Regions from separate parts of the Homo sapiens genome. Here region 1 is linked to region 2. Evidence: fine-mapped expression QTL. A gene starts in region 2. The other region holds a variant in brackets. All regions are shown on one strand. Distances are from middle to middle. Region 1 overlaps RNF144B (ring finger protein 144B). Region 2 holds the start of MIR548A1HG (MIR548A1 host gene).

What was found.
Region 1: its variant is fine-mapped to the expression of MIR548A1HG in thyroid (GTEx, PIP above 0.99).

The regions. Positions count from the first base shown.
Region 1 is chr6:18,466,303-18,477,976 of GRCh38, reverse strand. RNF144B (ring finger protein 144B) reads right to left here. Exons shown (of 8, transcript NM_182757.4): 8 at 9,107-11,674. Among named protein-coding and RNA genes, the nearest start is that of MIR548A1HG, 51 kb to the left of the region's middle. The variant A/C (reference allele first, on the strand shown) is at 6,343.
Region 2 is chr6:18,518,380-18,530,053 of GRCh38, reverse strand. It overlaps MIR548A1HG (MIR548A1 host gene), which reads right to left and starts at 7,307. Exons shown (of 8, transcript NR_149116.1): 1 at 7,219-7,307. RefSeq lists an enhancer at 1,827-2,462.

The DNA.
Region 1 (11,674 bases), 52 kb after region 2:
AGCAGAATAATTAAGTTGTTTTGTGACAAGCTTTAGTTCTTCACATACAAAATGGAAGTATATAACATCAGATTGCATCAGTTTATCTTATGAGCAGACAGAGTGGCAGCAGAGGGGAAGACACACCTCATGCACTTTCAAAGAGAATTTCTTTCCAAGTAAATGAAAACAACATGGTCAATTAACTTCCTCAAAGCACTTTCAGAACTCAACTCCATTTCCCGTCTTTGTCAAGCTAGTTATGTACTTCAGTGCTCCTGGCTTTCCCCCAAAAAGGAGAAGGCATTTGGGTTGAAAGCATTTCTTAAATGAATTAATTCATCACTCTAAGAAACTCTCCTGTACCCCCTACTTTCATAAGAATTAACTAAAGTTATAAAACAAAGTAGAAATGCATCTCCCACTCAGTTTTTATGCATCCAATCTGGCTGCTCCTTCAGCATACCCTATGAGTAATTGTATTTATTCCCTGCTTTGTTCCAAAAATGATTTAAGGGTGAGTCCTATGAATAAGCCTCACATTAATGAAACCCTTTCTAAGCTGGCTCTGAGTAAAGACTGATAGCAATTTTATGGAGGTTTTAATATTCAATACAGTAACATGTTCGAGTACAAAACAACATTACAATGGAAAACTTTTTTAAAGCACTAGTTTGGTGGATGCTATAGTTACCAAAGTGTTATTGGGTTTGGTTTTGTTTTATGTAAGATCTTTCTCATTTGCTTTCCCCTGACATTCCCTGCAGACACCAACCTGGATCAGGCTCTCATTAAATGATACCTGGACTATTGTAGTACTGTCCTCAAACTGGCCACGCCACTTCCAGCTTCTCTCCTTGCAATTTAACCAACAGACTGTTGTCAGATTAACCTGCTAAAATGTAGCTTTGCACATACCTTTTTTTTTTTTTTTTTTTTGAGACAGGGTCTCACTCTGTTGCCCAGGCTGGAGTGCAGTGGCACCATCACGGCTCACTGCAGCCTTGACCTCCCAAGGCTCAGGTGGTCATCCCACCTTAACCTTCCAGGTAGCTGGGACCACAGGTGCATGCCACCACACCTGGCTAATTTTTGTAACTTTTGGTAGAGACAAGGTTTTGCCATGTGGCCCAGGCTGGTCTCGAACTCCTGGGCTCAAGTGATCCTCCCATGTCAGCCCCCCAAAGTGCTGGGTTTATGGGCATGAGTCACTGCACCTCACCCCACTCTTCAAGCACAGAACCCTGAAATGGCTCCTCACCCCAAAAAGAACCTGTCAACACGGGAGCCTGGCACTCAAGGTTCTCTGTTTCTGCACCCCACAGGTGCTTTATTTCTGTTTCATTCAGTTATTTCTCACTCCCCATGTCACACTGTTGTCATCATGCCTCCTCTCTGTAATGCCCTTGCTGATCACAATCCTGTCTCTCAACACCCTGATCAGCATCATCTCCATGAAATGTGAATTGAAAAGTTCCAACAATCTCACTCCTTCTCCACAGGTTCATGGCACCTGTCTACACCAATCACCTGGCATGTACCAGGCATGACCCAATGCAGTCATTCCTTTTTCTGTAGACCAACGTATTCTTTCTCCTAAACCTAACTAAGCCACTTGAAACAACTAATTGAGACACATTTGTTTGTACAAAGAAGGCATTCAATATATGTTTGGTGATTAAAATAACCTAGTAGACTTGCTCATGCTTCTCAAACAGGTGTATGTAACACCCCAGGGTATTGTGGGGTACTGGAGGATACAAGACAAAGATAAAGCATCTTTAAGAAGTTAATTTTGGCCAGGGACAGTGGTTCACACCTGTAATCCCAGCACTTTGGGGGGCCGAGGCGGGTGGATTACCTAAGGTCAGGAGCTCGAGACCAGCCTGACCAATATGGTGAAATCCTATCTCCACTAAAAAATACAAAAATTAGCCAGGTGTGGTGGTGTGCGCCTGTAGTCCCAGCTACTCGGGTGGCTAAGACAGGAGAATCACTTGAACTCAGGAGGTGGAGGTTGCAGTGAGCCGAGATCGTGCCACTGCACTCCAGCCTGGGTGACAGAGCAAGACTCTGTCTTCAAAAAAAAAAAAAAAGAAAAAAGAAGAAGTTAATCTTACTTCAATAATTTAAAATGTAATCTTTAAAATGAAATCAGGCCAGGTCTGGTGGCTCACACCTGTAATTCCAGGATTTTGGGAGGCTGAGGCAGGAGGATTGCCTGAGCTCGGGAGTTTAAGACCAATCTGGGCAACATGGTGAAACTCTGTCTTTACAAAAAAATTAAAAAATTAGCGGGGTGTGGTGGCATGCACCGTAGTCCCAGCTACTCAAGAGGCTGAGGTGGGAGGATCACTTGAACCCAGGAGGTCAAGGCTGCAGTGAGCCGAGATCATCACGCCACTGCACTCCAGACTGGCCGACAGAGCAAGACCTTGTCTCAAAAATAAAAATAAATAAAATCAGGCCAGTTGTGGTGGTTCACACCTGTAATCCCAGCACTTTGGGAGGCCGAGGTGGGAAGCTGCTTGAGCCCAGGAGTTTGAGGCTACAGTGAGTCCTGATCGTGCCCCTGTACTCCAGCCTGGGCAACAAAGCAAGACCCTGTCTCTACAAACAAAATTACTTAATTAAAATCAAAATAGTATGGAGGTTATAATTTTTAATGAATGTTTAAATGAACAATAAAATTAAAAAATAAAACCAGAGACCTCAAATAAGTGTCTAGCCCTCAGCAGTTAGCTTGGGACAATGCTTCCAGGTCATCTTCTGTTCCCTCCAGTAGTAAATTAACATTCTTACACCAGTTGAGGATATTTATTGTTTGAGAAATACCCTGCAGATTATGAATGGGGAGTGGGAGAAGAATACAACCACTTATTTTTATCATTTTCATTTTAAGGTGCAATCAACACACATTTTTGTTTTCCTTAAGGTAGGTAAAAGAAATTAAACCTGAAGATTTTTTTCAAGTTTTTTTTTTTTTTTTTTTTTTTTTTTTCTGAGACGAAGTCCCGCTCTGACACCCAGGCTGGAGTGCGGTGGTGCGATCTCGGCTCACTGCAAGCTCCGCCTCCCGGGTTCATGCCATTCTCCCACCTCAGCCTCCCAGGTAGCTGGGACTACAGGCGCCCACCACCACGCTCTGCTAACTTTTTTGTATTTTTAGTAGCGATGGGGTTTCACCGTGTTAGCTAGGATGGTCTCGATCTCCTGACCTAGTGATCCGCCCACCTCGGCCTCCCAAAGTGCTGGGATTACAGGCGTGAGCCACCATGCCCCACCACAAGTTCTTATTTTACTTCCTTGGCTATGACACACTTGTGATATCAGATGTAAATATGAGGACTGAGTTTTAGTATGACCACTCTTAAAACTTTTAAAGCATTCTTTGAATATTTAATTAACTTGTTTTTTTAATTAACTTATTTCTTTATTTACCGTTTTTCAAAGTTCACAAGTAGTTTTGTGTTCTACTTTTGAAAATCGAATTCATTAAAGACTGAATAAAAATTTTGTTAACAAAGTCGATGTGCCTATTTATCTTCTCATTCACACAAACATACATGCATATATACTATCCTATATGCTATCAATATATATACCTTAAATTTAACTCAATTTGCAGAAAATACAATGTATACTGAAAAAAATTAATAACAAGCCCCTTAGACTAACACACTCATAATAATCCATGGTGTGCTTCAAATAAGGAGAGTGAGGTCCTGATATTTTTTGTATAGGTACTAGAAGAAACATGTCCCTGGAAATTCCCCAAGCAACTTTGATTATAGGTCTTTTTAGCCACCAAGAGCTGTAGATAAACCATGAGGTTCAACCACTACTCTTTGAATTTGCTCATTTTAAGTAAATTGGCAATATATTTCATATGCTTCTGGCATTATCCATAACAGCATCTGGAAGCTGCTTCTGAGGATTACTTTGTCTAAGAAGGAGAATTTCCCTTGAGCTAACTAGTTTCATGCATATAGAGCTCACAGAGGGGGCTGGAGGTTTTTTCCATCTTAGTCAAAATGTTAGGTTTGTACTGAACCTAGAAAACAGTTACTTCCTAATTTTCTAGATGAGGCAACCGAAGCCAAGAGAAATTGTAACTTGTCCACAAGAGACTAGGAGAGCTATCAAACTTCCCTCCAGTCTTTCATTTCTAGTCAAAAGCATGGCTATGCTAGTTTAAAACATCTACAGCATCTGGCCGGGTCTGTATTGCTGCACTGGGGGTGGGAGAGGGGAAGAGGCAATGACCTTGACTTTTGTTGCACGTCCCTCAACAACAGGCAGTGACTGGTTAACTCAGATCCATCTGCTTTACTGGTCTGACTTGAATGGAAACACCATCCTGTACTTTAAGCCAGCTCTTAAAAGAGTTGTCCTTCCTGAATCCAAAACAAGATTCAATCCAATCCTGAATCTTCTGAAGGTTTGTTTAGAAAGCTCAGATCAGGTTTTCTTCTGAGTCCATTTAAGAAAATCTGTCCCACATATAGACCAAATGGACCTCCCAAGGACACTAGCCAGAAGCAGAATTGCTGATCTCCTTGGCTATACTAGACCCAATTCCAACGGTAAGTCAACAGTTCCCAGGTAGAAGTTAGATTTTGCTAACTCTTCCCCAAGTTTGTGATGTCTTCAAGCAGATTCTATTACCTGTGAAAACTCTTTGCCTTCATGGGGCTGGGAAACAGAACAGATTTTAAAAAGCTAAATTTCCTTTTGAAAATGACAAATATACATACTCTCGTAGCCATTAAAATGTAAAATGGAAGCCAGAGATGTGTCAGAAGAGGAAGCCAAAGAGGTCTGAAGTATGAGAAAGACTCAATGAGCTGTTGCAAGCTTGAAGATGGAGGGGGCCACGTGGAAGGTGTGAGAAGGAACTGAATTCTGACAACACCCAGAGAGCCTGGAATAGGACTCTGAGCCTCCCTCCAGAGGAGAACACAGCCCCATCCAACACTTTGATTTTTTTTTTTTTTTTTTGAGACAGAGTCTCACTTTGTGGCCAGGCTGGAGTGCAGTGGCACAATCTCAGCTCACTGCAACCTCCACCTCCTGGGTTCAAGCGATTCTCCTGCCTCAGCCTCTTGAGTAGTTGGACTGCAGGTGCCCACCACCACGCCCGGCTAATTTTTGTATTTTTAGTAGAGACAGGGTTTCACCATGTTGGCCAGTATGGTCTCAATCTCTTGACCTCGTGATCCGCTAACCTCGGCCTCCCAAAGTGCTGGGATTACAGGCATGAGCCCCCACACCTGGCCAACACCTTGATTTTTAGCCCAGTGAAACTTCGAGCAGAGAACCCAGCAACATCACGTCAGACCTCTGATCTACAGAAACTGAAGTAATAAATGTGTTGTTTTTAGATGCTTTTAAAAATTAAAATAATGCAAACAGGTCCCGAGTTAGTTCATGCAAGATGTGGGTTCAAGTTCTAGCTTTGCCACTCACCTGCTGTACGACCTGCACCATGTCTTCTAACCCCTGAGTCTCATCTCCCATCTGTACATTGGGGGTGGGGGGGTGTGAAGAGTAATATCTACTTTCTAGAGTAGTATGAAGAGCAAAAGGAAACTGCATACTATAAGGCATTATTTAAACACTAAGTTCTTACCATAAACCTTCCCCCCAAAATCAATGTGTTGATATAAATTCTGCATTTCTTTCCACATATTCCCCTCATTTTAATGAAGCATATACTTAGATTTAACTATTTTGTGAAATATTTGTTAAACAATGACATAGGATTTTTTTTTTAAACCTAAAAAGAAAATACATTTACGGAGGGGGTCATACTTCTCTCAACACAGACAAGCTTGAAATGTATTTCAGGACTACCCTCCTCCTGCCCCAAGTTTGCCCCCTCTTCTCCTCTCAGAACAATGCCTGGCTAAAAACTGATTGACTCGGCCAGGCGCAGTGGCTCATGCCTGTAATATTTCAGCATTTTGGGAGGCCGAGGCAGATGAATCACTTGGGGCCAGCAGTTCAAGACCAGCCTGGCCAACATGGTGAAACTCTGTCTCTACTAAAAATACAAAAATTAGCTGGGCGTGGTGGCACACGCCTGTAGTCCCAGCTACTCAGGATGACGATGCAGGAGAATTGCTTGAACCCAGGAGGCGGAGTTTGCAGTGAGCAGAGATAGCACCACTGCACTCCCGCCTGGGCAACAGAGCGAGACTGTCTCAAAACAAACAAACAAAAAACTGATCAACTACACTTAACAGCTGCAAGCACACCTAACTCAGTGGCTCGCTCTCCTCACACCTCCCTAACAACCAACACTTAGAAGCACTTTGACATTCGGGATTTTACTCGATCCACCTAAGCCTGACCTGAGAT[A/C]GGGATGAAATGACGCTATACAATAAAGGGCTGGCCCCAGACCATACCACCAGTCAAGAGCACAGCCAGGCCTAGAACTGAAGCCATCTTATTGCCAGCTGGGCGTCTGCCTCCAACCCCACACCACCTGGATTGGCAGAGGGCCGGGAGGACAGAGGACGCTGCACACTTGTTCTGTGGCCAGGGTGGCACCACGTTTGCCAGCCCTCTCCCAGCACCCTGTTCACATGCCCTTGTGGTGCCAAAGTCCCAGGGCCAGGCTGGAATTCAGGACACACCACACAGGGTGGTATGTGGATTTCTGAACTTGTTTTAAAATGAATTGGCTTGTCTTCAAAACATAAGTCGAGGCTGATCAATAATCAGAAGTCCCATAACTTACCTCAAAAATACCTTCATGTTCATTTTATCTGAATGTGTTCAGTACTATTGATGTTAACCACCCCTCCACTCCCCACAAAAGGAAATATATCTTCTTGAATCATGTCAGGTCCTTAAGGAACTACAAGATAAAACGACCAACACTCAACTTAATTTCCTTCTCATCGAAAGCCCGAATTCCTGATTTAACAGCTAAAAAAAAGCAAAACTGAGGGCAAATATAGCACTGATAAAAATCGAAAATCATAAAGGCAGAAAATGGAATTGAAAGGACTTCTTTATGTATGAGAAATTAAGTTCATTACTTGGAGTCCCCTTTCTAGCTTTGGAAACTGCCAATTGATTTAATGGTAGGCTACAAATACACATTTGAGTACAAGTTGGCAGTGTTAATAAGAAAGGAGTTAGATCTGAGTCAACAGTCCCTTTGAATCTTGATTGTAAATATCAAAAGGAACTTGTGAGAATGTACTTTGTAGGGGAGAGGCAAGCACTTGGGCATTTGGGGTAAGTATATAGATTCAGCTATAATTCTGCTTCCAATACTAGCAAGTCAGATGCAGACCGCCTTGTTATTTTTCTAGTTACCTTCCATCAACTGTCCTTCTCTAGCCAAACTTCAAGGAGTGAGGTGAGGGGATCTCAGGGGTACCCACCAAAACACAGCCTCTAAGTGATGATTTGAAATATGTTCTTACATACATCTCCACTGATGCAGATAAATGAGAGGGTACTATGTTCTCTTAGGACTCACAGATTTGGGAGTGAAAGACTCGAAATTACTAATGAAAGAGCATTATAGAACTTTCAAGTCGTAGTGCATTCTTTTCCTGGCTGTCACTCATCAGTATGAACCTAAGCAAGACATGAATACAAAACATTGCTTTCTTCATAAAATGGATCTAATCTGCTCCATTTATCTCAAAGGATTGTTCTCAAAAGTTCTTTAGTTTACGTAAAAATATACAAATAAAACATTATAATTGCTATTAACGCATTTAAGCAGATTCGTTTCCTTTTTCTCATAGTGTTGGGCATTATCTTTAGGGTCTAAAGAAAACTAGATTTATTATCTAACAAATGAAAATAATTGAATTACAGAAAAACCTAATTATTATTCTCCTCCAAATCATCAGATTCATAACTTAAATTGCAATGAGTTTGCTGGTTAGGGCACTGATTAAAATCACTGCTATATAAAATGGTTCATTCAATATTTCTTTGGGAATGCAAATTCAAGGTTAGCAAACAATAAGCACACTTTCAAAATGAAATAATGTTGACATTCTAGGAGATGATTAAGAAAATTAAGAAACCATAACCCAAAAGTATTTTTAAATGATCTTATTGATTTCCTCAAAACTGAATGATTAGAAAATGAAATTTGAATTGTACATCAGTTGTAAACCTTTGTATGCAGGTACCATTTTAGAAGCATCCAGCCTTCAATAAAAAGGTTTCAACACCAGTACAGGAGAGTGAGCTTTCGGTTTTATGGAAACACAAGCTCTAGTTGTTAAGTAATCTTTGGCACCCAACTTAAGACCTGCCTCGAATACTAATTCAAATGGAAATGACCTTAACACTCTTAAATCCTTTCTTAAAAAATCATAACAAGGAAACACATGCCTCTAGCAGACTTTTGGAAGGTTAGAACTGACCTTAGCGTTTAGTCCAACCTTTATTGTACAGAACAAATGGCTTTGACACTTGGCAGCATTTTTTATTAGAATGATCAAAGATCTGTATTATTGGTTATTGCTCTGGATAATGATGAGTTCCTATGCACTGGCAGTGTGGACTATCACACCTACAAAGAAGAAAGTGTGTAACAAAGGCATTACACTTGCCACCCCCCCACCCCCTTTTTTTTTTTTTTGAGACCGAGTTTCGCTCTTGCTGCCCAGGCTGGAGTGCAATGGCACAATCTTGGCTCACCGCAACCTCCACCTCCAGGTTCAAGCAATTCTCCTGCCTCAGCGTCCCAAGTAGCTGGGACTACAGGCATGTGCCATCATGTCCAGCTAATTTTTTTTTTTTGTATTTTTAGTAGAGACAGGGTTCTAATTTTTTGTGTTTTTAGTAGAGACGGGGTTTCACCATGTTGGCCAGGCTGGTCTCGAACTCCCGACTTCAGGTGATCCGCCCACCTTGGCCTCCCAAAGTGCTGGGATTATAGGCGTGAGCTACCACACCTGACCCCCTGACCCTATTTCTTTTAAGAAGTAAAGTAGCCAAGAGTTATTTCCATAGATGGTATTGCAAATTCTGGTACATTTTGTAAATTCAGAACCTAGGATTTAACAGTAACTTGGTTGGTTCTCAAAGGATAAAACTGAACATGCCTAGAATTGTGCAGCGCAACAAAGGTTAACACACTTGATTTCCTGCTTACATTTATTGTGGCTAGAGAGCCTAAACAGCTATTTTCTTCTCCAAAAATTGGAAAAATATAACACGATAGCAATTTTTTAAATACATAAAACTTCCTGGATCATGAATCAACATGAGACATAATAGCCTGTAGATATCAATTGTGATCGCTTTATAAAATGTCATTCATCTAATGCATTTCTGAAATTGCCCTTAAAGCTACACATACACACATGACTCTATATCACATAAAGGCATCCATTCATGAACAGAAAGAAAAGTCTTTTATTAGTACTGTGTAGGGAAGGCTAAAGAAATATACATTTAATTCAGAATAATTTTTAAGAAAAAACGTGGGGTTCCAAGAAATGGTGATTTACATTCAAATGAACATGTACATTTGCAAACCTGGATAAGTAGATATTTTCATGAAGCACGCTACAAGAAAATTCACACAGAATTATTTGTTTTTCAAAGGCCTCTTTCAAAGTACAGACTCCAAGTCCAAAGCAAATACCCATGGCATGAACAAATAGGATGCCTAAGATTCTAACATTTGCTTCGGCATGGCTTTCCTCCTCACTTCCCTACCTCACAACAAGAAAAAATTTCCTAGATGGGACAATGGCAAGATATTGTGCTAATACGTTTCATAGGATTTCTAGATGCTGGGCTATAACATCCAGGTTACAATTTGGTGACGGATTTTTTTATTTCTATTGCAAATGGACTACACTCCAAACACAAAAAGATTCTTGCCATAGCATCCAAACATCCCTATGTAGACCCACACTTCCTCTCAATACAGAAAGAGAATCACTCAGAAAGGACAAAGCTGGCAGACCAAGAAAGGAGGCAAGGGTAAACTCTGTCACTGGCCAATTATCTAAAACAAAAATAGCAGCCTCTGTTATCAAAGTTGTCAGTTAAAACTGTCAGCTGTCAGGCACAGTGACACACACCTGTAATCCCAACACTTTGGGAGCCCAAGGTGGGTGGATCGCTTGAGCCCAGGAGTTTGAGACAAGACTGGGCAACACAGAGAAACCCCATCTCTACAAAAAATACAAAACTTAGCCAGGTGTGGTGGTGTGTGCCTGTAGTCCCAGCTGCTCAGGAGGATAAGGTGAGAGGAACACTTGAGCCCAGGAGGTAGGGGTTGAAGTGAACCATGATCATGCCACTGCACTCCGGCCTGGGTGACAAAGGGAGACTCTGTCCAAAAAATAAAAATAAAAATAAGTCGCCAGCTCTCTCCTTTATAAACAGTCTTTAGACTGGTTTGTATCATGCCCCTTGATGTACCAGAGATATGTTTAACCAACCTAGTTTTGTTGATTCTGACAATCTCACACACATTTAAGAATTTACCATTTTTCAGGCACTTTTCAATGTTAAAAAAAATTAAATCCAATTATTGAAAATCAGTTTGACAAACAACCCCCACTCCATAGCCCTGGCAAAAAAAAAAAAAAAAAAACAAAAGCAGCTAATTCAGTGATACAAACTCTGTAAGGTGGCAAATTCCCTCAACTCGCCAAGGAAATAGCACATATTTATTTTCTCCCATCTTTACTCCAAATTTGGGACCTCTTCCTCTGATAACACAGTCTTTTAGGTTACTTGAAATCAGCCCCCATTTAAAGACTCTTTGCAGCACCAAGCTTAAAGAGTTTACTGACAGAGGACTTTGCCACTATTAACATTCTTGTTACAAAAATTCAGTTTCAGTTGAGTTCTCGTAATCCCCTGAGCAGTTATAAATGCCTTTTACCTATAATGAGGCAGTGGGCTACGTGTAAAACAAAGCAAATTAACTATTCAAATATATGTAAATCTATAATTATACTAACATGAACTACACTGATAGTGTTTTTTTCTGAAGTGTTTAGAGTTTCAAAAGAAAAAGACACAATATTGAGAAATTTCTAATAAATGATTAAAAATGATTTTGGTTGGTTGCCATTCCCAAGTTTTCCCAGAGTTCTCATCTATGTTCTACACAACATGTAAATTAAAATGTACATAACCAACAGATGTACTATACACACATCAGATATCAATATATACTTGTGAATTAAAGTTCCTGAAATATACACATCCCCACTTAGGATATATCCTATTACATAGGCAAAGCATCATCCTTTAACAATAGGTCCGAGATAGCAGCAATTTGATATTCTATTACCCAGTTACCTCAGAAAATATCATAGATCCTGAATAGTTCCTGATATGGTATCCCTGGCTTCAAGAACTCTCCAGTAACATTTAGCATAGGTCTCATGAAGCACCAGGCTACATTGCCAATAGCAATTATATAATCCTGTCATTGGAGAAAAGGTTTTATCCTTTCAAAACCTCGTTATTCAAATCTGACTAATGGTATAATGGAAAAAATAAGTCACAATGAGGTGATACATAAATTTAAACTAAATTATATAAAGCATTTCTATTTTATTTCTTACATGTTTTTGTTGCGGTTTTATCAGTGCCTTGAAACAGAAAGTATTCAGACTGTCCTAACAGATGCTGAAAGAGCAATAATGATGCTGAGAAAAGAGCTATTCTGTGTTCGAAA
Region 2 (11,674 bases):
GTTTGACCTTATATTTGAAATAAGCCAACATTATATTAAAATATTAATGCAACCTTAGACAATGTTAATAGAAAATTAAGTCCAAATGACAGGAAATACAGTCTCAGTGACTTCTCTCCTACTCAAACAGAGCACTGTTTTGAATTCTGAGTTTTATAATTTAGAAAGAATGGGCTCATGCCTTTAATCTCAGCACTTTGGGAGGCTGAGGTAGGTGGATCGCTTGAGCTCAAGAGTTCGAAACCAGCCTGGGCAACACAGCAAAACCCCATCTCTACAAAAAATACAAAAATTAGCTGGCCGTGGTGGCATGCCTGTAGTCCCAGCTACTTGGGAGGCTGAGGCAGGAGAATCACTTGAACTCTGGAGGCAGAGATTGCAGTGAGCCAAGATTGTGGCACTGCACTCCAGCCTGGTAACAGAGCGAGACTCTGTCTCAAACAACAACAACAAAAAATTAGTCAGGCATGGTGGAGTGCACCTGTGGTCCCAGCTACTCGAGAGGCTCAGGTGGGAGAATCACCTTAGTCTGGGAGGTCAAGGCTGCAGTAAGCCAAGATCACACCACTGCGCTCCATCTTGGGTGACAGAGTGAGACCCTGTCTCAAAAAAAAAGAAAGAAAGAAAGGATGCAGCAAATTAAGAGCACACTCAGAGGACATGACAGGACAGCAAAGAAACCATTGGAATAACAATGAGGGGAAACAGGAACATTTAACATATAGAAAAGAGGATTTGGGACTTAAATGACAACGGTCTTGAGTGCACTGTGCTGTACGGCAAAGAAAAATTGAATGTGTTCTCCAAAGATCTAGAATCCGGTTCCTACTCTATTCCTATTTACTGTGTGATCTCAAGCAGGTTGCTTCCCTTCTCTGGGTCTTATGTCTTCACCTTTATAAAAGGAGGTGTTGTTTTGTGAGCAATGGCAGGGGGTTTTCATCAGACTTAGGTTCAAATCCCACCTACATGGCTTACCAGTTACGTGGTTTTGATCTGAGCCTTTGTAAAATACAGATAAATAAAGATGAAAATTCCCTCAGAGCTTATTGTGAGAATTAAATAAAATAATGTAAATAAGATGCCTGGTGCAATGCTGATACATAGTTGATACTCAATAAATTATAATTTACAATTACTAATTACCAATAAATGGTAAATACAGTTATTCAGTAATACGACTCTATAAAAGATGTGAAATGCCATTACAAGAAGGCGATACAGTTTTCTGCCATGTTGCAAGACCAGCGATAAAAGTTATAGGAAAGCAGGTTTTTCACTAATTGAAGAAATAACTTTCTAATAAGTAGAACTAACAAGAAAAAAAAGCTGCCTTGCGAAGTAGCAAAGTTCCCAACACTAGGAATGTTCAACAGGGTCATGAAGAATATCTGTTGGGGACACTACAGAACAGCTTCCTATATTTTGAATGAGAAATAGATAAGATCCCTTCCTAATTCAAATGTCTATGACTTTCAGCTGAATGCAGTACCAAGTGCATTCATAGTTTATAATATTAATGTACCACTGCCCTCTAGTGTATAACCTAAGAAGATAAAATCACTGATTAAAAAAAAGGAAAAAAATGTTTGCACAAGCATCATGCAAAATTATTTTTATTGACAAAAAGTTATCTCACCAATCATTGAGTAGAACCTTCTTATTTTCAGGTGAGAAAACTAGAGGACAGAAAGTGATACAATTAGCCCAAAGTCACAGGGCTACACAGCACAGAGCTGGGATAAGAATCTCACTCTCTAACTCTCAGGTCAGGGTTCTTCCTGACATGTCACATTCCTGAGGCTGCAGCATAGATCCAGTTATCCTTGGATAGCATCACTTGTCTGAGCCAAAACTCTTTGGTTCTAACCACGTAACTGGACAAGTTTCTCTCAGCACGATGAGTCCAGCACATCCTCAATCACAAGTTCAAACCCTTACAACCATGTTGCTGAAAAAAAAACAATGGTTAATGAGGCCATGTTGACAAGCATAGTTCATTATCAGCAAGCTAATGACCACTCAGGCCGCAGCAGGGATGCCAGCCTACAATTAGGTCTGCAGTGATGTACAAACAGAAAGGGACTCTAGTTATAATTAAACCTGATCCTTTAGTCCAATTGCTCATTAGGAAAGAAAATAAAACAATCCACAGATCCCACACAAGAAGGCCTAAAACTAATGCTTTGGTCCGGGGATGAAATGTTAGGCCATTGAGCTATTAGCCCATGTCTGTCTGCTGCTGAATGAGCACTTAAGCTTATATTCTTATTCAAAATACTTTGTAATGAAGGAGGATTGGTTTTCATCTTACTGATTTTGAAAGCCGTGGCACAAAGGATGCTGGATAATTTTTCATTTTCTTCATTTTGCCTATCACGATTGTTCAATCGTTTTTCCTGTGGACCTGTATTACTTGTGCAATTAAATATATTTAAAAAGTACTAAATCTTGCCAAAATCTCTTCAAGTAATGAAAACTAGGCATTAAACATAAGAATACACATAAGCACGAGCCTTTCATAATTAGAAGAAGGAACTACCTCTATAGAAAGGCAACATGATGTTATAAAAATAAAAAAGTCAGCACAGTATATGGGTTCTGAAACCAGAGGACTGGAATTCATGCGACAGCTTTGCTAGTGAACCCTTGGACGGGTATCTAAAATTTTAAAGGAAGGTGTCTGTGATTAAATGAAAGGTCTAGGTAAAGATCCTAGGAGATGTGAAAAAAAAAAAGTGATTCATAAATTACAGGTTCCTTCCTCTTCCCCATATTCCCCTGCATTGCTTTTCTGTCCTCATAATTCCTAAAATATGTCTAAATCTAGAAAGAGATGTCTTACTAAGAAAGACCAATTGAAAGCTTTGAATTGATGAGGAAAGAAGATGTAAGTAGGCCTAAGGAGGGAAAGTAGTAAGAAGAGAGGGAGAAGAGGAGGCAGTATTAACAAGAAAGAAGAGAGAATGGGCTTCATTTGGAGACAAATTCTCTGGAGCCTTGAGAAGAGGTGGGGAGGACATTGGAAGAGTGAAGCTAATGAGATTAGAAAAGGTTTGTTTTCTCCCTTTCTTCCCATTTAGTCCCTTCCTTACCTTTTTGTCTCTTTCAGATTCTTAAATGATGAAGCCCTTTCTTATTCCTGTCCATTTATCCTTCATCTGCAACTTCTTTCTCGTTACTCAGTGCCCTAGCCGTGTGCTTTTGAATCAATCTCGCCAGCACCCTCTGGAAGTGTGTGTCATCAATTATCTTTTCATTACATAACGTTTCTCACACATACCTTCAATCTGCTCTTCTCTACTGGTCTCTTATCTGTCTATCTAAAAGCATTCTTAGGTTTTCTCTGTACTTAAGATTCAATCCCAGGAGCCCTTATATTGCCATGTGCTCCCTGGGTAACAGAAAGGGAAAGCACTGTGAAGAATACATCATTCTTTAAAAAACCAGTTCCTGCGCTCAAGGGGCTTACCAATTAGTTGTGGAGAAAAGACTATGTCATTAGAAACAATGGTGATCAATAAAAGGAGTATATAATTAAGTCCTAAATTGGCTCGTCAGACTCTGAGTCTCTACAGCTTGGGGGATGCACGCCAAGGAGTTCCCCAAGGTGCTATGGTAAGGGATGATTTGGAGGAAGCACCAGGCCAGAATATTGCACAAAGCAATTACTCAATAAATATTTGTGATTTGGTTTGAGACAAAATGTTAGCTAAGCCTTGAAAATCATTATAAGATCGCCACTTCTCCCACCTACTTGACAATTCTCCTTCTTCATTGGTTTTAAGGTGCATATTGTTTCACATCTTAACAATTCTGGAACAAGGATGTATTTTTCAATCAAGGAGACTCAGCATGTGTTACAGACTAATTGCCAGTGCTTTTTCTTTCTTAGTGGTATATAAAATAATGGTACAACTTACAACCGATGGCTTCTTAGATTCCATAAAACACAGTTTTTTTGTGTATCCAGTATATTTCAGGTTGCTATTTTAGGCCCTAGGGATATGTGAATAAGAAATGTAAAGTTTTTCTTTTGTGAAGCTTGCATTGTGATAGAGGAAGACAGATAATAAACAAATTAACAAATATATGATACACTGATGCCAGGTATGGTGACACAGACTGAATAGGAACTAGATTTAGGCCTAGATCCCAATCTACTGTGCAGGAAAATAAAAAATAATGAGAAGTGAAGTTTTTAAAAATCAGATTTCACGTACGAGAAATAGCAATTTGGAAGGAATTTACACATATTTTGGGTATTTCATCTCCTCTGCTAGACAGTGAGCTCCTTGAAAACTTTTTATAAAGGGCAATTTACTTAATTTTACTACAAAAGCTGAAAAATATAGTATGGATTGGACCCTTGATCTCAAGGGTCAGGAAACTTTTTCTGTATAGAGCCAGAGAGTCAATAATTTCAGCTTTGCACATCATATGCTCAATGACACAACTACTCACCTCTGCCATTGTAACACAAAAGCAACATGGATAAATACATAGATAAGCATGGCTGTTTTCCAACAAAATTTGGTTTATAAACACAAGTCGCAGGCTGAATTGGCTCCACATTGCAGTTTCCCAACCCCTGAACTAGGTAGCTATTCCTAAAGGCTCCTAGAACTCTGGAATTCTTTGAGATCTAAGCCTGGAGACCTATTTACCACAGCATATACAAATGATCCTCGACTACAATGGTTTGGCTTACAATTATTTTTCATTTTTAATGGTGCAAAAGCAATACACATTCAATAAATACCATACTTTGAGTACTCATACAGCCATTCTGTTTTTCACTTTCAGTATGTTATTTAATAAATTACACGAGATGTTCAACACTTTATTGTAAAATGGGCTTTGTGTTAGATGATTTGGCCCAGCTGCAGGCTAACATAAGTGTTCTGAGTATGTTGAAAGTCAGCTAGGCTAAGCTATGACATTTGATAAACCTATAGGTGTATTAAATGCATTTTTCCTTATAATAGTTTCAATTTGCAATGGGTTTATTGAGATGTAACCCCTCGAAGGCAAGGAGCATCTGTACAACATCCACAAGATTCCCCAGATTGTTAGTAAGGCCACAGAAACAAACCAAGAAAAGGGGAGCAGCAATGTTTCTGGGGTATCATATGTGGAGATGAACCCATTTACAAAGGTTTGCTCAAAAACCAAAAATTTCAACTCATCCCAACATACATGGCCTTCCAGATAGATTCAGGGAATCCTGCACTAAAAAGAACAGGTCTTTTTACAGCCACAGATAGGAGGTCAGCAGGTGATTAGTGAGGTCTGCATGCTCAGACCTGGCTTGTTGCACTGCGGTCAATTACACAGCTGGTTACAAGTGTGTGTTTGCACCTGTTCAAGCCTTCAAATGTGCTAATCCTATATTAATTAAGCAACTTCTTAGAAGCAGGTTAAAAACAAATTAGACCCTGCCATCCCATGCCTGTTCCAGCCTTCCCTTGGTAGCCCTTCATCTATAAGGGATCATCTACAGAGGGTAAGGAGCAATGTTTCTTCGTAATTCGGGAGGGGCTCATTATGCCCCATCAATTAGTGCTGCCACCACTTAGTGAAAACAGTTGTTGGTACATAGCCCATATTAGTGACTAATTAATAAGGGTTGATTAGCTAAGCCCCCTCACAAGGTATAACAGGCAACAGCCACCTTCCACAAGGACTACGGATTAAAACAGAGATATCAACAATGTAAAATGAAAGAAATTTTGCTGGTGACCCTCATCTTTTTTTTTTTTGCTTGGAGACGGAGTCTCACTCTTTTTCACCCAGGCCGGAGTGCAGTGGCGCTGTCTGCAAACTCCGCCTGCCGGTTCACGCCATTCTCCTGCCTCAGCCTCCCGAGTAGCTTGGACTATAGGCGCCCGGCTAATTTTTTGTATTTTTAGTAGAAATGGGGTTTCACCGTGTTAGCCAGGATGGTCTCGATCTCCTGACCTCGTGATCCGCCTGCCTCGGCCTCCCAAAGTGCTGGGATTACAGGCTTGAGCCACCGCGCCCGGCTACCCTCATCTTTCTGAATGGGTTAAGAGACAGCACAGTCCATAGCTAACCAGTACACCTTATGATTTCAATACATTGAAATGATTTCAGTTGCCAAGGATGTCTGGCTTGTTATTCTTTGAATCATTGATAAAGGGAGGAAAGTAGTACCATAGCAGATTAATGTGGGAGCTTATCTCAGGGAGGTAGAAAAATCGACCCTGTACATGTAGGATGCACACCATACTGCAAAACATAGGACATGAATGTGTATCTATTTAGATATCCCTGTTGATATTTTCAAATGTTATTTTTATTAGGAGCATGGAATAGTGGGTAAAAACAAGAGACTCAGATTAGTGATTTGACTAATTATGGATCAAGCAAAATGTTCATGTTTCTGTATATCAGTTATTGTGTTATATCATAATTACCTGTTGTGTATCTCCCTCATTCACACACACACACACGCACACATAGACACAAATTTTGATCACGGGTTCTTTGAAGTTAGGGGTCAAATCTCATTTATCTTCATATTCCATAGAAGAGAGCATTTTAGAAACTTCTTAGCCATTTGATGAATAGATTAAGGAATGAATGCTTTAACTTCTGATTACTGGCTAATATTTGTATCTTTAGTAGAGATGGGGTTTCATCATATTGGTCAGGCTGGTCTTGAACTCCTGAACTTGTGATCCACCCACCTCAGCCTCCCAAAGGGCTGGGATTACAGATTACAGGCGTGAGCCACCACACTCGGCAGCTGATTCCATCTTTTTTTTTTTTTTTTTTTTTTTTAGACGGAGTTTCACTCTTGTTGCTCAGGCTGGAATGCAATGGCACAATCTAGGCTCACTGCAACCTCTGCCTCCCAGGTGCAAGCAATTCTCCTGCCTCAGCCTCCTGAGTAGCTGGGATTACAGGCATCCGCCCGCACGCCCGGCTAATTTCGTATTTTTAGTAGAGACGGGCTTTCTCCATGTTGGTCAGGCTGGTCTTGAACTCCCGACCTCAGGTGATTCGCCCGCTTCGGCCTCCCAAAGTGCTGGGATTACAGGCTGAGCCACTGCGCCCCGCCTGATTCCATCTTTTACTCATGGCATCATTCCTTGCTACTCTTAACAGGTGTATTACTCCATTTTCATGCTGCTGATAAAGACATACCCAACTCTGGATAATTTATACAGGAAAAAGGTTTAATGGACTTACAGTTCGACGTGGCTGGGAGGCCTCAGAATCATGGCAGAAGGCGAAGAGGAGCAAGTCACATTCTACGTGGATGGCGGCAGGCAAAGAAACGGTTTGTGTAGGGAAACTCCCGTGTTTAAAACCGTCAGATCTCGTGAGACTTATCCACTAGCACGAGAACAGCACGGGAAAGACCCACCCCCCGTGTTTTAATTACCTCCCACCAGGTTCCTCCCACGACACGTGGGAATTGTTGGAATTAAAATTCAAAATGAGATTTGGGTGGGGACACAGCCAAACCATATCAACAGGTTTCCTTGGGATAAGTCTGATGCGTTTAGCATATCAAAGCTATCACTGTTCTCCAGTTTACCAAAATACCTCTTTCCAAACACGATGGAGAAAGAAGAAAAATGAGTGAAAAAGAGAAAAAAACCTCTAACCTACTCCCTAAGAATGTTCATCGTGGCACCATTTAAAATAGAGACTGCAAATAAACCTAAGGATGGTTAAATATAGTATGATACATTCTACATGTCATATGAAATCATTAAATTAATGTTTTAAAAGACTAAGAGTATTTAATGACATAGAAAGTGTTCCACTGAGATATCGTTAGAAATAAAAGGCACAATCCCTGCAGGATAATATAAAATAATATGTATCATGTGCATCTCTAAAAGGCCAGAGGTATAAGATTCAAAATATTTTAAAAGGCTCTCTCTGGTGACAGAATTGGGTGATGTTTATCTTCTCCTTTGTGTTTTTCTGGAAGATCCAAAGTTTTACAACATGTGCTACATTATAGTCAAAGGAAAAAAGTCCATATGAAAAAAAGAAAAGGTTTTGCTTTTATATATCTTTATACGACATCATAAAAACCATGCAATCTCATCAGTCAGGCTGAACTCCAGCAGCTACTAAAACCAGTTTAATTAATGATTCTCACATAAATTAAGTGAACTTACATTACCAGATAATAAAACATATTATGACACTACAATAACGTAGTACACACATAAAAATTGATGGTAGAAACAAATAGCCCAGAAATGGATCCTAATATATATCTACTCAAAAAGAACTTAGTATATGATAAAGGTGAGATGACTAATCATTCAAGAGGAGGAAGGATTATTTCATAAATAGTGTTAAAATAGAGAGTTAACTGTTTCAGTGAGAAGATAAATCACTGCCTTACAAGATACAATAATGTACATTTTGGATGGATTTAATTATTAAGTGTAAAAACTACACTCAGGAGACCCAGAAGAAATAATAAATATGTGAATTTATAATCTAGAATTTCAAATATCTTTCTAATCAATGATAAAGGAAAAAATAAACCAGAAAGAGAGGGAGACCAATTTTCCTACACTTTTGTATATCACTTACTCACATCAAAAACCACCATAAAAGGCCTGGCGCAGTGGCTCACGTCTGTAATCCCAGCAACTTGGGAGGCCAAGGCAGGCGAATCACCTGAGGTCAGCAGTGATTCCTGCTGAAACCCCGTCTCTACTAAAAATACAAAAATTAGCCGGATGTGGTGGCACACGCCTGAAACCCCAGCTACTCCAGAGGCTGAGGCACGAGAATCACTTGAACCCAGGCAGCAGAGGTTGCAGTGAGCCGAGATTGTGCCACTGCACTCCAGTCTGGGCAACAGACTGAGACTCTGTCCTCAAAAGAAAAAAAAAACTTTATGTTCCATTAGGGCAGGGGCTGTCTCTCTCTCATTTGCTGCTGAATGTTACACCTTCTGCAGTGCTTCACACATAGTGGGCAATCAATAAGTATTGATCAAATAAAAGAATGATCATTTACAAAAGAGTAAATAGAAATGACCATTAACACAGTTATGTTTTAAAAGTCCCACATGACTGGTAATCAAAGAAATGAAAGATGAAGCAGAGATAACACTTTATTCCCTCAACTTGGCATGTATGTCTTTTAAAATAATACTCACTGCTGTCAGGTATATGATGAAATGAGTACTCTCACTCACTGCTACTAGGAATCTGTTAGGTCAAAATTTGTCAAAATGTGCAAAAATCTCAAAAGTGTTTTGATCCTTCAGCAATATTTTCATTTCTGAGAATTTATTATGGAAAAATAATCTAAATAAACACAAAAATATCAATCTCCGCAATCCTGGTAATGCTGTAAATTGGAAACAACCTAATTGTTAAATACAGGGAATTGATTAAATAATTATATACATATGAAATAATGTTATAAAATATTAATATTTGTGATTTTGAATATTTAAGTATATGGAAAATTGTATGTTATAAAACAAGTTTAAGGATAAATCTATACGTATATATTGATTCCCATATTTTAGAAAATATATGGATATCTATACGTTAAAAAAAATAATATGTAGTCCAGGCGCAATGGCTCCTGCCTGTAATCCCAGCACTTTAGGAAGCTGAGGCAGTTGGATCACCTGAAGTCAGGAGTTCGTGACCAGCCTGGCCAACATGGTGAAACCCTGTCTCTGTTAAAACTACAAAAATTAGCCAGATGTGGTGGCACATGCCTGTAATCCCAGCTACTCCGGAGGCTGAGGCACGAGAATCGCTTAAACCCAGGAAGCAGAGTTTGCTAGTGAGCTGAGATCTCGTCACTGTACTCCAGCCTGAGCAACAGAGTGAGACTCTATCTCAAAAAAAAAATAAAAATAAAAATAAAGTGCATATTTTTATGTTTACTTGGATAGCGAAATATGCTTTTAAATTGATTTCCCAAAGAACTCATACTACTTGTATAATAAAACAAAAATAATAATTTTAAAAAACTTATCTTCACCATGCACAATGGCACAGCAGCTACACAGAGGCCACAGCAGGACGATCACTTAAGCCCAGGAATTTGAGACCAGCCTAAGCAACATGGAAAGACCCTGTGTCTTTAAAATTTTTAATAGTTTTTAAAGACTTCTCTTCTGTGAGGTTTGCAAGCTTTTTCATAGTTTGCAAGCTGTCATTTTAATATATTCTATTGATCACAAAAGGATTGGGGTGGGGAGAGATAGGTACTATAAACTGAAACCCCGCTGCTCTTAGGCAAACCCAACAATCCCAGCATATGTTGGGGTCAGTAGTGATACTCTCCTAGCCGGGACCTCCTGGGCTCACTCCATCCTACGCAACCAATACCCACCCTTGGTAACTCAATCACTGGCATCTAAAAAATGCTTTTTGCTTAGCTTAGAATATTTTGCCATTTAGATGAACATTTTTCATCAATTTTTCACTGAGTTTTTTTCTCCAGAAATGTGAACTGAAAAGTGAATTCATAGAAGAAAAATTGTTGAAAAAAAATTTCCTTTAGGATGTTTTTAGAGAATTTTTTAATCCTGAGAAATTTCACCTGCAGGAAAAGAAAAAAAATACTTAATTGCTTATTCAGTCCTATTTTCCTAAGTGTTCAGATCTTTTAATAACTTTAATGTATAGGACAGTTGCATAGGTAACATTTTAATATGACTCTGTGCATATGTGTACTACTTCTCAAAGAGGTTGAACAATTTTACATACCAGTAGTGTATGATATTTCTGGTTGCTCCACATCCTTAAAAACACTTGATGTGGTCAGTCTTTTTAATTTTAGCCATTCTAGTGGGTATGTAGTAATGTCTCATTGTGATTTTACTTTGCATTACCCTAATGTTTGGTGTGGTTGAACATTTTTTTCATGTGCTTATTTGCCATTTGTATATCTTCTTCGGTGAAGCCCCTCAAGTTATTTTTTCAGGACTGTGCTTTGTTAGAACGTTTGAAGCCTATGAACTTAAGAGAAATTCATATATCTGGTATTCCAATAAAATATTTGGAGATACCCTTCAAAAACGAGGTGTTCAGATCCTACTTCAAGCTTTATTTTTCATAGCTTTCCTGCCTATAATTATCATGTCATCATTATCCTATCTGTATATAGTCAAATAATATTGTCCTGAGAATTAATGTAAAGCAGATTCCTTCCTTCTGGCTACTGGATTTCCCTCTCAGATACTAGTTGGATGCCTGCCCAAGAGGAAAATATCAGGCATTGCAGACAGGTAATCCTGAGCACACAATCTCATTCTATAACTGAAATCTAAAATGCTATACACCAAGGAACATTTCATAAATCTTTCCTCTAGTTGAGAATTATAACCTCTCTTTATGACAGAGAACATGTGTATCCAGTGCTGGAGATTTTATTCTATGCAATAGGAAATAAATAAATAAAATTGAAAAGCATCCAGATTTGAAAAGAAGAAATAAAACTGGCTTTATTTGCAGATAACACGACTGACTCTGTAGAAAATTCTTTGGAAAAACAACTTTGAAAAAAGAGCCAGAGGGTTCGTACTGCCTAACTTCAAAGCTTTTACAAAGTTTCATTAACCAAGACAGTGTGGTATTCGCATAAAAATAGATCAATAAATGAATTAGAATAGAACATAGACCCACATATTTAGGATTGT